Linked DNA regions of Homo sapiens. The protein of the gene in region 2 purifies or fractionates together with the protein of the main gene of each other region. This does not show direct contact. Each region holds a gene or a part of one and is shown on either strand. Other genes may lie near its edges.

Evidence for each region.
Region 1: the proteins of ADCY8 (region 2) and HACD2 purify together in Homo sapiens (affinity purification with mass spectrometry; one large-scale study listed by BioGRID and IntAct). This does not show direct contact.

What each region holds. Positions count from the first base shown.
Region 1 is NC_000003.12:123,497,998-123,501,827, forward strand, and holds part of HACD2 (very-long-chain (3R)-3-hydroxyacyl-CoA dehydratase 2), read right to left. Parts: intron 2,697-3,830; coding exon 2,518-2,696; intron 1,644-2,517; coding exon of another isoform or gene 1,639-1,643; exon of another isoform or gene 1-1,638. UniProt on the Homo sapiens protein: Catalyzes the third of the very long-chain fatty acids (VLCFA) elongation four-step cycle (condensation, reduction, dehydration, and reduction).
Region 2 is NC_000008.11:130,782,560-130,785,943, forward strand, and holds part of ADCY8 (adenylate cyclase type 8), read right to left. Parts: intron 2,917-3,384; coding exon 2,824-2,916; intron 1,247-2,823; coding exon 1,132-1,246; intron 1-1,131.

The DNA.
Region 1 (3,830 bases), on a different chromosome or scaffold from region 2:
ATAAATACAAAGCTTTGGAAAGTTGGAAATGTGCAGCTGGCCAGAATGAACTGTACACTCTGGCCTCAACAGTAACAACCTGAACCACTGAGAACATCCAGAGCTGCTGGCTCAGGCCACAGCACAGTGAGGCCAGCAGGCACCAGGGTGACTCGCATCAGGAGAGGTAGTCTGTGTGCCATCTTGAACCTGGGTGAGGAGTCAATGGTTTGCAGGGAATCTTTTAATCATTATTTGAGATCCACCCTTTTCTCCGGTCTACAAGAGGTTAGCTGCCTTAGAAAAAGAAATTATGTTAGACTTTAACTGAGCCAAGTTCTCTTACCAAAAGGAGGCTGAGACTGCAAGGGGGAATTACTTAAGGTAAAGAAAGCAGACTTCTGTTGGGAGGAGAGTCCTTCCCTACTCTCTGAAAGAGGGGTCCCCAACCGCCACCTGTTGGAACAGAGCTGCACAGCAGGAGGTGAGTGGTGGGCAAATGAGCATTACTGCCTGAGCTCTGCCTCCTGTCAGACCAGCAGTGGCTTTAGATTCTCATAGAAGTGTGAACCCTGTTGTAAACTGCACATTCAAGGGATCTAGGTTATATGTTTCTTATGAGAATCTAATGCCTGATGATCTAAGGTAGAACAGTTTCATCCTGAAACCATCCCCTCCACCGCCCAGGGAAAAGCTGTCTTCCATGAAACCGGTCCCTGATGCCAAAAAGGTTGTGGGGACTGCTGCTCTAAAAGACAGCTGGCTCTGGGGTCAGTGTTTTCTCTTTCCTCTATCTCTTTCAAGACCAAGATGAAAAGCTCACAGGAGTGGGTTTCCCTCAGGAACGCTATCATCATGGAGGCTGCGTGTGGTACCCAGGCACTGCCACTACACCAAGAGCTCAGAAGGAAGAGGCAAAGCTCAGCACTGGTTGGCTACCAGAGCATAAAGAGACAAACATGCAGACAGATGGAGGCTGCCCTGGGGAGTGGTTCCTGGAAGGAAGCCCTGCTTCCTAGAGAGGTTGGAAGTCTTGCAGGAACTCTCAGGTAAGAACGCCTAGATTTTTGTCAGTGTGGAAGCAGCTTGTTATGGATCTGATTTCATAAAAACCTCCCTGCCCCTTTCCCAGTCACCCAATATGGTACATATCTCCTATTCATTTGACTATGGTGAATTCAAATAAAGCCTGTGGTGCCCACTGGGATAATATGTGTTAGTTACTCCGGGTGTGGTAAAACTGCAACTGTGAACTGCTGCTCTAGAGACTGGAAAATGAAACTCTAAAAAAAAAAAACAAAATTAGAAAGGTGATAAACTACCAGTTAATTTTTATTACTTAGTAGTTTAGATGATTTCACATTTATCATCTGTTTGAAAATCAACCACTTTTTACATTTGAAGAGAGATGGCCTCTGGTCGCTATGATTCCAGCACTAGAGAGGACTCAACATGAATAAAGAGTGGAAAATGAATCATGAAGCAGAACTGTATCCAAGAATTTCTGCAAGATAAACACTCACATGAAATCTGGATGTAGTTTTTTTCTCACAATGCATGAAATGCAATTTTCCACAGAGGGACACAAGCATGTCGCTTTGTTAGGGTGATTCATTCCGATGATGCCATGCAATGAGGAGAAGTCCAACCCTGTCTGATTTAACCTGGGGTTTAGGGAAGAATACAGTATCTTTTCTAGATTAAAATAAGATTCAGAGTTACAGTGGTTATAGAAATAGCAAAATGAGAAGAACCACTAACACTGTATGTCGTTGGTTATAAGAAGATCTTTTGGTATATAGAAATCAATCATAGGATTTATAATTGAACATCAGAATTCCAGCAAAGGACTAAACTCCTCATCCTCAGAAAGTAGGGCTCACTTCACAGAGACATCAAACATGTCTTTTTCTCTGTCACTGAATACACTGATAGGCACATTTGATTATCCATATACTTAAATCTTCAGCAGTACTATTAAAATAATTGGAAACCATCTTGAAGAGAACACTGTGTCCCAATCAGTGCTCAACAAGAAAATGAAAAATTTAGAAAAAAATAAATCTATTATTATTTTGTTATGTTTCTAGTTAACTACCAATCCCTTCAAAATGAAGTTAAATGTCTATTTTGATATAGTAACCAATGCAAAAATCTTTTTATCATGTTTTTCAAATACTGTAACAAGCAGTTCTTAAGACACAGAAAACTACAATCAAGGTAAGGCCTTTAATGGCTTTTTTGTTTTCCATTCAGTACTTTCCCCAATACATACTTAACCTAGCCTGGTATTCAGTTTCAAACCCACATGCTGAGAAGGGCTGCATTTTGGCAACTGTATTGAGAAGGGTTCATCTTTATTCAATTACTACTGGAAAAAAATTCCTTTTGATAGTCAGCATTCAATAAAAACCAAGAATTCCCAATAAATGAGATTTACATTTACTTGGATATAGTGCAAAGACAGTCAAAGATATTTAGTTATTGTAGAGCCAAATTTTAAAACATAATTAAATATACGCATAACTGTTTACTTACTTGGAATGTAGGAGATCATTATTAGAATCAGGAATGCATAGTAGTCAAAAGAGAAATTGTATTTGTTGGGTAAACTGATGGAATATAGGCCAGCTTGTCTGACAAAGGGCAGAGCTGCATATATTGTGAGCAGTTCTCCTGACACTCCCATTGGGTACAGCACAATGAAAAGTGTGTACCTAAAACAAAACAAAATATTCATTACTGAGGCTCAAAGTCAGCTTTAGAAGGAAGCTGCACTTCCCACCCTTCTAATCAGTACTGGTCTTTTAGAAAATGATTGTTTATACATTTTCCTGTTTACCTGCTACTCAAATTCAGGTTTTACAAGCCAGTTTCTGAAACCAGCCTACAGCAGGTATATGTTTCCAAATGTTCTAACGACAAAATAAAGGCCGTTCAGGCAGCCTCAAAATTTGGTCTGACAAAATAAACAACTCTTCAAAATTATGCTCTAAAATAACTAAAGTGATGCCAAATGTTGGTAAAGTAGGGGAACTGAGTCATGGTTTATACTGACGGGTCCTGCCCTGTGGGTCTTGGGATGGGGTTGGGGTGGTAGTGGCGGAGGTGTTGGAACATGTGGTCTAGGAATTCCACACCACACACAAAGACTGAACAACAAAAAAAATAGCATAAGCATCTGTATACTGCTACTATTTTTCAAATGTTTGTACATGCTATTGTGAAAAATCAAATATATACAATTAAAAAAATTTAAAATTCATAATAGCTTTTGGTTACTATGTAATTTTCCAATCAAAACACCCCACAATTACAATTATCGTCACATGGGAGGGGAATCTGCATAATTGTTTTCTCTTTAAAAAGGAGTTCTCCATATTCCACAAAGAATTCAGAGAGCAGTCACTGTCCCATGGAACTGTAAGCCACTATAAGTATTGCTAAAGGAATCATCAGCTCAGACTTTAAACAGCCTTTGGCTGTTTGTGGCTCACAATGTGCAACGGACTACAAACTTCTGGGCACAGGAATTGTGATGAAAATCTCTGAAGTGGAAGGGAAGACATATTCCCCACTGCCAATTTTAGCCACACTAAGTAGGATGGTGGAAAAAAATCTTTCAGAGGCCATGGAGAACAGTGGATGAAAGAATCTTTCTCCAACAGTAAAATCAGGCCTTGGTCAACAGACTTCCCTAACAACCAGGGTAAAAAGCTTCCACAGTGGCTGTCCAGGTTGGTTAGTAACTGCTATGTTTCCCATTCTTCCCCTTTCCTAATAAAAATGTTCATTGCAAATGAGAAAAATAATAAAATAACAAAGGAGTTCCCATACTCAAAATGTTGGAA
Region 2 (3,384 bases):
TGATTTGGCAACATCTTCAGAATTTACTTAGAATATCTCTGTTCAGCATTACAGTTCCCTTTTTATTCCTGGTTCAATTGTGTAGTCAACAATTTCAGAAATGACATTGATAAGATTGATGGAAGATGTGGGAACAAGCGCTGAACATCCCATCCATAGATCAAAAACATAAAATATAAGCCCTTTAATGCAAAGAGCAAAGACATATGGCATTCCTTAGATCTGACAAGTCAGATATTGGTATTTCTTGACCTGTTTTTCTTGAAAGCTGCTAAGGGAGAAGCAGATAAAGTAAAATGGCATATCAGCCAGAAGATGTCTACAGTGTGAGGACCGTAGCAAAAGTTATTTTAAACTGCACTCTGGCAGCCAGAATGTCATTGTCTCAGAGTTAGGAAATGCTGGAGCTGCTGCTGGTGTGACTGTGTGATCTTAGGCTAGTTACTCCCTTTTCATAGGCCCGCATTTACTCATCTACAAAATGAGAATGTGGACTAGACCAGGGATATTCAGACTGCATTTTAGGAGGTCACTGAGGCTCAGTAGAGATGTGGAAGGAATGGCAAATATAAAGGATTATTATTGATTGCAGTGATTAATGTTACGTTGTTGCTTTGTGCGGTGATGTCTTTAAGCCCAAAGAAATGGCGAGCTTTGTGGCTGAGTAAAGCCTGTCCCTGGAAGTATAGTATCTGCCATCCTCAGGAGTAGAATCCTGCTTTTGTCTGAAGGAATTATCCTGAAGACCTTGAGAGCAATACATTGACCACCAGCATTGAGCTACCCAGGAGTCAGAATTAAATGACTGATTAGTCAGCTACATCTCTATGCACGACCTTGCATGGGCAGGCAAGTTGGAAGAGGGGTTCACAATAGTCTAGCATTTGCCAAAGGCTGGCTGCTTTGTATTTCTGCACACAAGCCAGTATCCTACTCTTGTTTCCAGCATCTTGACTGAGAGGAAACTAAGAAAGGCCTGAGCTGACCTTGTCCCTATCCTTGGCAGGGTCATGCTAGATCTATTGCATTTTGCAGGAAAAAGCTTTCCTGGATTGATGCCCAAGGCAGGGGAGGGTCTGTTGGAGCAAGGTCAGCTGGCTCTATCAGGCCCCACCTGCAGCTGCTACTCACCAATCCGGAGTTCAAAATTGTTGAATGAATGCTTGTTGATCTCCTGTATGCTTTCTGTCAGGGCGAGTGAGAAGTCAGCCAGAGCACACAAATGTCCCCACTTGTCTTCACATTGCTGAAGCAAACATGAGGAGAAGAAATCATTTAATGCGGAATGTGGGGGAACATTAACATTTCTGCAGCAGGGGCTTTACGTCCTAACCCAACCCTACCTGCACATCCCTTTAAGGAAATAATCATGTGGGTGAGCCCCTCTACACTCAAGTCACTGGTATCTCAGAACATGGGAAGACATAAGATTTGCTTGCAAGAGTGTAGTATATGTGGGTCATTGTATTCCTTCTTCCACATCTACACCTGTCTGTTCAGGTTGATGTAGCATCAATTCCGTAGTGTATGTTCACTGGCATGTGTGTGAATGAGTGTATGTGTGTATGTGTGTGTGTGTTGGGGGTGTGTGGGCGTGTGGGTGGCCGTGAGTGTATGTGGGTATGGGTATGTGTGTGGGTATGGGTATATGTGTGGGTATGGGTATGTGTGTGTATATGTGCTCTTATGTATGTGTAGTTTTCCAGTCTAAGAACTGTGTCTATTTCCTTTGAATTGCTCACAGTGTGTGTTTAAGGGATACATTTGCTTACAAAACTCCTAAGGGAAGTGCTGCATAAGCCTCTGGGCCTCTCTGAACCTCAGTTTCCAAATCTATAAAATGGGGATAAGCATACTTGCCCTTCCTACCTCGTAGGTATTGAATGAGATTTTTTATATGAGAGAACTTTGTGCCCCTGTAGAACAGAGGTTAGCAAACAGTTTCAATAAAGGCTAGATAGCCAATATTTTAAGGTTTGTCGACCATATGGTCTTTGTTGTGACACTCAACATTGCCATTTTAGCTTGAAAGGAGCAATAGGCAAAATATAAATGAATGGGCATGGCTGTTTTCCAATAAAGTTTTATTTATAAAAACAGATGGTGGGCCAGATTTGACCTGTGAGCTGTAGTTTTCTGATCCCTGCTGCACACGTACCAAATAATAACCAGCATGAGTTTCATCCCAGATAGTCACTCTTGAAGTATTTTATTGTTTTTAGTTGGAAAAAAGCATACGAAGGATTGGAAGAAATTGATGAGAATTCCATTTCCCCAAGTATCTTGGACTCATATTCTTTTAACACTAATTGAGGACTTTACTAGATGCAAGGCTTTGCTTGGGGAGCATGACATTATCTGAGATAATTCATCCATTAACCCTGGAAGGTAGACAGTGTTGCCATTTAACACCAGTGCCTGGAACACAGTCAACACTCCAAAAAGCAGCAACTGTTATTATTATGATGTAAGACTTTTGAAAGACAAAACCAAAATAGGAAAAAAGAGGCTAGTATTAGGGGTTTAGTAAGATCCACAACTAAATCACAATAGGCTATTTCTGGGCTCTTGATTTTGTTCAAGGGAACAATGAGGTTCAGAACAAAGCCTAGAAGTTTCTCAAAAAAGCAGCGTGGCTTCATCTGGTAGACTCTACCTACCTTGGGGGCAAATCCACATCACGTAACTATTATAATCCAGTCCATTAGATTTTCTCCCCATCTTTCCCCAAGGATCTTGGTGACAGAGGCTTCACCACCGTCGGTGACATGACAACAGCAAGACCCCACCATGCATTGTGGCTGAGTCCAAAGAGTCCTTTACCTGTTTTTCAGGTGACAGGCCTGACACGGCCATGTAGGTGCTGCCAATGGTCTTAATCTTTTCAATGTCTTGAAATCGGTCTTCACCAAGCAACTGAAAGAGAGCCAGGCAATGGTGTTAGCCCTGGTGTTTATTCTTCCAGCAGCCTGGGCTCCTGAAAACAGGCCCCTGGCTCACAATGAGCTACCTCTGATGGTTCAATATCCTCTAGTTATCTGCTTTTCTCTCTGAGAATCATGCTTTCAGCCAGTCACATATATTTAATGAGCACTTGCTAAGGGTCAGGAGTGGAGATGGGTGTAAATTGGTACTCTTTAAGGAGTAGGTCTGCCCCTTCACATGTAAATCAGATCCTGTCCCTGCTCTGTGCCAAACCTCCTATGGCTTTCTGTTTTACTCAAGGTCAAAACCAGTCTTCACTGTGACTTGCAAGGCTTGCCAAGACCTGTCCGCTCTCTTATCGTCTCCCTCTCTCACTCTGCTCCAGCTGCACTGATCCCCTTTGCCCCTTGCCACACTGACCTGAGAACAAGCTCAGCCTGCTTTGGCCTCAGGACTTCT